2 separate regions of the Homo sapiens genome follow, and region 1 is linked to region 2. A link means that fine-mapping ties the variant in region 2 to the plasma level of a protein whose gene starts in the linked region. Region 2 holds a variant in brackets. A gene starts in the other region. All regions are shown on their reverse strands.

Region 1 (4,387 bases), not on the chromosome of region 2:
TTTATTTTTACAGAAATGGAGTCTCACTATGTTGCTCAGGCTGGTCTTGAACTCCTGGGCTCAAGCAATCCCCTCACCCCAGCCTCCCAAAGAGCCTTAAAGTCCTTTTTTAAACAGCAAGTTTGTTTAAAGGAAAAGCATACTTACTCTGGTATCACGCTTAACTTTAGAAATTCAAGCAACTGTTAATATGAGATAGACATATATTAACTTGTTATTGACGTGAGACATACATACAGAAAAGTGCTCATAGATCCGTTTAAACTGTACCCAGATCAAGAAGCCAGACATTACCTGTAAGCCCTTCTTATTCTCCAGTGACCGCTATCCTAACAGCATAGGTTAGTTTTGCCTGTTTTATCCTTTACAGAAACAAAATCATATAGTGTCTGTGTTTTTGGGCCTGACTTCTTCACTCAACATTGTTTCAGAGGTTCATCTATATTAAGCATAGCAGTGGTTCATGCAGTCTCATTGCTGTCTGGGATTCCGCTTTGTGACTATACCATCACAATGTCTGCGATCCATTCTGTTGGTGGGCATCTGGGTCATTTCCAATCTGGGCTATTGCAAATATACTGGTATGATATTCTAGTTCATATCCTTTGGTAAACATACACACTGATTGAGGTTGTGTGTACATCCAGAAGGGGAATTGCTGGTCAGAGGGTAGTTGTACTCTCAGCTTTAATAGATTCTGCCAAAGAGTTTTCCAAAATGCTTGTAAAAATTTACACTCCCACTAGCGGTGTATGAAAATTCTTTAGGTATGAGGTCTATGTAAAGCAAAAATAAAGAAGTTAATATGCAAAAGTTATATGTAAGTTAAAAATACGTGTTAAGTTCATTCAAACGGAACCAATTTAACCCGTTGGAGTAATACCGGGTGTGTTTATTTAATACACCATTTTCCCCTTCATCAAAACTTTTAATTTATGTAACCTGGATGAGCTTCCTGACTCTACTCTCCCTTAATCCAATCAGTTAAAAGTCTCTCTGAAAAGACTGTCCATTCATTTATTCAGTTAGAATGTTGTGAGTGTTAATAAACTGGTGTTTGCAAAACAAATTCAACCCCTCCTGCAAAGCAGAATATACATCTCGCCCATCATGTGTCTAAAATGGCAGAGTCAGCCAGGATATGCCTTAAAGATCTGCACTTGATAACCATCGCGTCTCCAGGGCTGTGAATGCAATTCAGAATCCAGAATTTTGTTCTAGTTGTAAAGGAAAAATGGTATATTCTCCCGCAGGTTTAACGAAAGAGAACGATGCCTTTAAAACGACAAAGCATTTTGCAAACACAGGTGTTATTCGACTATAAAGGCGGCGGGGGAGGGGGGCAGTAAAATGAGCCGGAAAGGGAATTCAGAGCGCTTATTTTTTCCCTGGTCTCTACAACTAATTCGTATTGTAGAACTGAGCCTCCATTTTCCCATCTGTAAAATAGGGTACTTTGACAAATTGCTTAGGGGATCTGTAAGTCCTATCCAGATCTAGTTTTTATTCTATGACCATGCAGGAGGAGAGATGCTGAGACAGAAAGGTAGAGGGGACCAGGGACAACTCACTTTATATACCCCCTCCACCTCGACCCCCAGCAGGCAGAGCGCCCGAGATCCCGGTTTCTGGGAACCCGGTGTATTTCCAGTCCTTCACCAGGAAAACCATCGAACTGAATCCTTTACTGGGACATTTCTCGTTTACTGCTCTCTCCAAATTCCCCTCTCAAGTGGTCTGACATCTGATCTCCGGATTCAGGAATATCTTGGTAGAAGTGCGCCCTCGGGGCTCCCACCCATTACAGCGTGCGACACTGAAACGGGCATATGGGTACCGGGGCGAGCCCTAAAGGTGAGCCGCTGAGTCTGGAGGTTGGGGTCCGTTGGGGTCCCCAAGGAGGAGCTCGCTGGGCTGGACGCCGGGCATCTGAGGGTCCCGCAGTGCCTGGAGCCCAGGAGCGCTGCGGGGCCCCCGGCTGCGGTGGGGTGGGCGGCCGAGCTCGCCGCCCCCGCTTCTCCCCGGCCCCTGCCCCTGCCCCGAGCTCCCAGCCCGGCTTCGGCCGGCCGCGCTGCCCGCTCCCCCTCCTCCCTCCGCGCCCCGCCCGCTCCCCACCTCCGCGCCCAGCCTCGCCGCCGCCGAGCGCCCGACGCGCCACGCCGCGCTGGGCAGCTGGAGAGCTGGCGGCGGAGCGGGCCGGGAGCGGCGGGGGCGGCGCCGAGGCCGCGGGCGGGGGGAGGAGGGCCGCAGCCCCGGAGAGGGGAAAAGGCGGGCCGGACGGCGCCAGCAGCCAGCCCCGAGGACGCGAGCGGCAGGTAAGCGCTCGGCGCCAGGACGGGTCTGGCCCCTTGGGGTCCTGAGACCCAGACTCGCACAGCCGGCCACGGGCGCTGGAGGCTCGGGCGCAGCGTCTAGCCCCGGAGGGCGGCGGGCCAGCGGGCCGGCGGGACGAACGCGCCTTCCGCCCGGCTGCTGTTCCTAGCCGGGGCCCGGGAACATCCTGAAAGGCGGAGGCGTAGCTCCCAGCCCCGGGGCTAGTTCCCCGACTGGGGGAGCCCGCGCGCCGTGGGAAAGGAGGCTCCAAGGGGAGACGCGCGTCTCCAAAACCTTCGGACGGAGCCGTACTTTCCCCAACCCGCGGGAAACTGAGCCACGAGCCTGACTCGCGCGGGTGGTGTGCTAGACGCCAACTCCCGGGAGCCCGGCTCCGCGCGCCTGGTCGGGCTGCGGCGGTGCTGGCGGAGCGCGAACGCGCCCGGGCCCCGGACGGCTTGGGGCGGCACCACTCGGCGCGGCCCCGAACAGGTGGCCCCGGGCACCGAGGGACGGAGCGGCGGCCCGGAGCCAGGGGGTGAGCACGCCGGGGAAGGAGGGGGCTCGTGGTCTCGGAGTGAGCGCATTTCGGCAGGGACTCGAGTTTCGAGGCTCCGAAACCCGATAAAAAGTGAGGGGGAAGAAGAGAGCTGACCTCCCGAGAGCCAGACGAAGCAGGGGACAGGTTTTCCGTGGCTGCTTCGACAGTGACAGTCTGTACTGTGCACGATAATCCCCCAGGGATCCCGTTAAAATGAGATTCTGATCCCGCAGGTCTGGGGTGGGGGCCGAGCGTCTGCATTTCTAAGAAGCTCCCAGTGGCTGCTGATGCTGTTCCATGGACCACACTTTATCCGGCAGGCCCTACGGAAGTACTTTTTGTCCAGCAGGCTGAAAACCTTAGGAAAAGTGGGAGATTGGGAGACGAGGTCCTAAGACTTTACAGTATGTATAGCTTTAATACCTCTTTGCCACCTCTACCCCCAAACGCACGCAAAAACACTTGCTACTATAAAGGCCAAGGGAAACTTTCCCTTCGCCCCCTGAAGGTTCGCTTGAAAAATTAACTGACAAAGACAGATTGATTGGAGAAAAGGCATGCAAATGTATTAATGTGTCCACGGGGAGAGAACAATAGAGTGATTACCCCCAGCCCCCCAATGGGGTACAGAAGCATGTAGATTATCTTGAGGTTACAGAAAGAAAGGGGTCTCAACGCATGGCCCCAAACAGGTTATGGTGGTAAAAGAGGTTGTGAGAGGGGGAGAAGAGGAGGCTTGGCCAGCAAAAATGGTCTGGAGATGTCAATGAAACCTCACAGGTGGCAGCCCTCAGAGAGAATAAACAGTAAATGTTTCTTTCAGACCTTTAAAGGGGTCAGATCCTCAGTTAATTTCTCTTAGATCTGGACAAGGGAGGACCTCGATAAAGCCTGGCTACATCCGTGCAGATTCTCTACAAATGCAAATCTTCCGCACCAAGGACAGCTTTGCATTAGCTCTACTGGCTGGCTTTCTAAATACGTCAATATTTAGAAATATGTCAACTATTTCAAAATATGTCAAAGAAATATATTTTGGGGTAAAATGATTTGATTTCCTTCACTACTCATTTAATAGCGAAATATTTTACTTTTCTTACCAACTTTCTAGCCAAATACATGATCTGATAGCAGGGCTGGCTTCATGGACATGCATCCTGCACTTGGTTTAATGCTGAAATTCTTAATTTTTGAACAAGGGGCCTCTCCTTTTCATTTTGCACTGGGTCCCACAAATTATGTAGCTGATCCTAATAGTCACCATACGTGGAAAGAGAACCCATTTTTTGATCAGGGTTTGAGATGGTGGGTGATGGAGAGTAGAGGTTTATTAAGGGAAGACTAGCTAGATGTTGCAGTTATCTCCAATCTTTCTCAACTCCTCTTTGGCTATCTGAAGAGATAAGTCTAAGAGCATACCCAGGCATGCATGGTGTGACAAAATTTATTACTTTATTAATATCAACAGTTAACAGTTTATTAGGAGCTTAATTATTGATAGACAATACAATTAAGTTTGATATTGAAATAATT
Region 2 (4,387 bases):
GCTACTCCCAGTCAGTGACCGAGCATGGTGTGGTACCAGAACCTGGCCACATCTGCATGATATAGGACACAACCCGTGCTTGGGAATCCCCCATCTGCCTGGCTGAGACTTTCCCTCGTCACTTCCCATTCTCCTTTCTCAAGTATCAGACCTGCATCATGGTCTGAGGGCTCCCCATCCCTTTTCCCCGACTTTCCCCTTTCCCTCTTTTTTTTTTTTTTTTTTTTGAGACGGAGTCTCACTCTGTCGCCCAGGCTGGAGTGCAGAGGTGTGATCTCTGCTCACTGCAACCTCCGCCTCCCAGGTTCCAGCGATTCTCATGCCTCAGCCTACCAAGTAGCTGGGATTAAAGGCACGCACCACCACACCTGGCTAATTTTTTTGGTATTGTAGTATAGATGGGGTTTCACCATGTTGGCCAGGCTGGTCTCAAACTCCTGACCTCAAGTGGTCCACCCATCTCGGCCTCCCAAAATGCTGGGATTACACACTTTCCCTCTTTGTCCTTTGTAGGTATTTTTCCCAGAAAACAAACAAACAAACAAACATCTAGGCATCTGATTCTTAGAGGATCCAAACCAACACAGGGACCAATGGAAAAAAAAAAAGGCTGGAAGAGAATTCATAAACAATAAGGCTATAGCTATACTTGCATAGAAAGATGTGCTGGATCTGTGCTTCACAAACTTTAATGTATGGTATGGTGAGTCACCTGGGGATCCTGTTGAAATGCTAGATCTGGTTAAGCAGGTCTGGTGTGGGCCCAAGATGCCACATTTCTAACAAGCTCCCTGGTGATACCAGTGCTGCTGGTCCAAGAACCCCAGATTGAGCAGCAAGGTGCTAGACATCGTCCATTTGTCCCTGCTGTTTCTCTTCACCCTGTTCTGTGCCCTGGAAGGCTGACTGCATGAACTATATCAGCAGGCTCCAAGACTCTAGCTTCCAGTAGGGTTTACTAATGAGGAGCACTGGCAGGAGATCAGAGGGCAGGAGGAGAGTGAGGTCAGAGGTTTTTATTCCTCTGAGGATAGCTCCCTACTGAGTTGCTGTGGGTTGGCTCTGTCCCTCTACCAAAGGCTGTAGCTCCTATCAGGTAGGTCTCTGCAATTTTTCTCTCTTGCAGAATTCCAGTACCTGCTCTCCCCTTTTCCCCTTCAGGCCTGGGATGGTAACAGCTCTGTACTATTACCAGCCCTGGAGTACTGCACCATCCCTTGTGGCTCTTAGTAAATCCTGCCTATACTTCTGTAAATGGTCCTTTAGTAAGCATTCCCCAGCTCCTCAGCCAAGTGTGCCATCTGTTTCCTGGTGGGACCCTGGCTGCTACAAGCGCTGTCCAATGCAGTATTTTTTATAAGAGCAGAAAACTGGAAACAAGCTAACTGTGCTTGTTTCTGTTTGTTTGTTTGTTTGTTTGTTTGAGAGTCTTGCTCTGTCACCCAGGCTGGAGTACAGTGGTGCAGTCTCAGCTCACTGTAACCTCTGCCTCTCAGGTTCAAGCGATTCTCGTGCCTCGGCCACCTAGGTAGCTGGGATTACAGGCATGTGCCACCACACCTGGCTATTTTTTTTTGTATTAGAGATGGGATTTCACCATGTTGGCCAGGCTGGTCTTGAACTCCTGGTCTCAAGCAATCCACCCCCCTTAACCTCCCAAAGTGCTGGGATTACAGGCATGAACCGCCATACTCGGCCTCAACTGTGCCTTATTCTAAAATGATTAAATGGGCTGGGAACAGTGGTTCATGCCTGTAATCCCAGCACTTTGGGAGGCCGAGGCGGGTGGATCACTTGAGGTCAGGAGTTCAAGACCAGCCTGGCCAACATGGCAAAACCCCGTCTCTACTAAAAATACAAAAATTAGCTTGGTGTGGTGGCGGGCATCTGTGATCCCAGCTACTCCATAGACTAAGGCAGGAGAATCGCTTGAACTCAGGAGGCAGAGGTTTCAGTGAGCCAAGATTGCACCACTGCACTCTAGCCTGGATGACAGAGTGAGACTCCATTTCAAAAAATATAAAATAGAAATAAAAATTAAATGATTAAATAAATTATGGTACGTCTGCTGAATGGTGTTTCATGCTATCATTTATTTATTTATTAAAATTTTTTTGGAGATGGAGTCTCGCTCTGTCGCTCAGGCTGGAGTGCAGTGGTGTGATCTCGGCTCACTGCAACCTCCACCTCCCAGGTTCAAGCAATTCTTCTGCCTCAGCCTCCCAAGTAGCTGGGACTACAGGCACATGCCACCATGCCTGGCTAATTTTTTTGTATTTTTAGTAGAGACAGGGTTTCACCGTGTTGCCCAGGCTGGTTTCAAACTCCTGAGCTCAGGCAATCCGACTGCCTCAGCCTCCCAAAGTGCTAGGATTGATTACAGGTATGAGCCACATCGCCGGGCCGCAATCATTTTTTTAAAATGCAGCAGTCTGTATTTACCTACATGGAAAGGTGCCCAAGACATTTGTTAATGGAAAAAGAAAAAAAAA[AG/G]CAAGATTCAAGAATAGCATGCGTAGTATGAACCCATTCATTTACAAAAAAAGTAAATTATCCATTTGTTAAGGCTTGGAATGCAAGTGACAACAATGCTGCTCAAAATAAACCTCACCAAAAAGAATGTGGGGAGGGATTTTCTAACTTAGTCTCTTTCTATCACTTGGTTTTGCTTTCTTTTGTGGTGACTTCACTCTTAGGCAGGCTGTCTTCAAGTGGTGGCAAAGTGAGCACCAGTTTGGCTGACATCCTGATAGCTGGCAACCTCAGCAGAGAGGGCCTCATTCTCAATTGCTTTAGCAAAAATCCTGGGCTGGGCTGGGCACAGTGGCTCATGCCTGTAATCCCAGCACTTTGGGAGGCTGAGGGAGGAAGATCACTTGAGGTCAGGAGTTTGAGGCCAGCCTGGACAACGTGGTGAAACCCCGTACCTACTAAAAATACAAAAATTAGCCGGGCATGGTGGTGGGTGCCTGTAATCCCAGCTACTCGGGAGGCTAACGCAGAGAATCACTTGAACCCAGGAGACAGAGGTTGCAGTTTGTGGGGTGCAATTGTGCCGCTGAACCTCAGCCTGGGAGAGAGAGTGGGACTCCGTCTCAAAAAAAAAAAAGTCCTGGGCTGAAGCCAATCAGGATATGTGCTAACCACTGAAGCACACAGACTGTGAGTAGGGAAGAAAGGCTTCCCAAAAGAAAAAGGGTGTCCAGAGGGAATATTTCATAGCAAACACTTGTTATCGTTTTTGACTGCCCAGCATCTGAACCCCCTTCCTACATTTGGGAGTGCCCTACCTTCTGAAGCAGAAACTACCTCCCGCTATTATATGAGCACATGACCCAAGTTGGGCCAGTCAGGCACTGTCACCTCAGCCTCTGAATCTGAAGCCAGGAACACCAAAAAGGGCCTGAACCAACCCCATCTTCCTACAGGGTGCAGCTGCGGCATGAGATTTGGGTCATTGTTCCTGGCTTTGGGGCCTCCAGAACTGGTTCTCAGGCTCTCATGGATCTGTGAGCTACAGAAGAACCTTGTACTAAATCCTGCAGCTTTTCCAGCACCTAAAACAGTGTCTGGAAATGGCAGGCACTCAATACATATTTGTTGAAAATGGAAAGAGAGTTGGACTCGATGTCAGAAGACCTGAGTCCTACTCACAGCTCTCCTGCAGAATAGTTGTGGAGTCTTTGGCAAGACACAACCTCTTTGTGCCTCGGTTGCCTCCTCTGCAACCTAGGGATGATCATCTGGGCCCTCCCCGGTGGATGGCAGGCGTGCAATGAAGATCAAACGTGGGTCTCCAACTTTAGCATGCATCAGAATCACCCAGAGGGCTTGTTAAAATATAGGTTGCTGAACCCACACCCAGAATTTCTGATTCAGTAGATCTTGGGTAGGGCCAGAAAAATCTGCGTTTGTAACAGTGTTGCAGCTGGTGATGGTGCTACTGCTGTGTGGGACACACTTCAAGGACCGCTGATAAAGAGAGAGAAGGTATTTCATTTTCTTTGTGACCATTGTAAATGAGGTTGTGTTCTTAATTTTGTTCTCAGCTAGAATGTTATTGGCATATCAAACTGCTATTGCTTTTTATACATTGATTTTCTGTCCTGAAACTTTACTGAATTTGTTTATCATTTCCAGGAGCCTTTTGGCAAACTCTGTAGGGTTTTCTATGTATAGATTCATACTCTCCGCAAAGACAGAGTGTTCGACTTTTTCTTTTCCTATTTGAATGCCTTTTATTTCTTTCTCTTACCTGGTTGTCTGGCTAGGACTTCCAGTACTATGTTGAATAGGAGTGGTGAGAGTCTTCTTCCAGCTTTTGCCTGTTTAATATGATGTTGGCTATGGGTTTGTCATAGATGGCTGTTATTATTTTGAGGTATGT

Which allele goes with the higher level. Positions count from the first base shown, and alleles are read on the strand shown. Strength reflects both the effect of a copy and how common the allele is.
With allele G in place of AG in region 2, the plasma level of the protein whose gene starts at base 2,289 in region 1 is higher (weak association).

Evidence for each region. PIP is the posterior inclusion probability: the model's chance that the variant is causal. The UK Biobank Pharma Proteomics Project read protein levels with antibody pairs (Olink). The fine-mapping took linkage between variants from a reference panel, not from the people measured, so its PIPs are less certain.
Region 1: it holds the start of ADGRG2, and the variant in region 2 is fine-mapped to the plasma level of the ADGRG2 protein (UK Biobank, PIP 0.98).

What each region holds. Positions count from the first base shown.
Region 1 is chrX:19,120,370-19,124,756 of GRCh38, reverse strand. It overlaps ADGRG2 (adhesion G protein-coupled receptor G2), which reads left to right and starts at 2,289. Exons shown (of 29, transcript NM_001079858.3): 1 at 2,289-2,315.
Region 2 is chr9:98,798,651-98,803,037 of GRCh38, reverse strand. It overlaps LOC124902229 (a long non-coding RNA gene), which reads left to right. Exons shown (of 2, transcript XR_007061689.1): 2 at 3,429-4,387. Among named protein-coding and RNA genes, the nearest start is that of ANKS6, 4.3 kb to the right of the region's middle. The variant AG/G (reference allele first, on the strand shown) is at 2,493.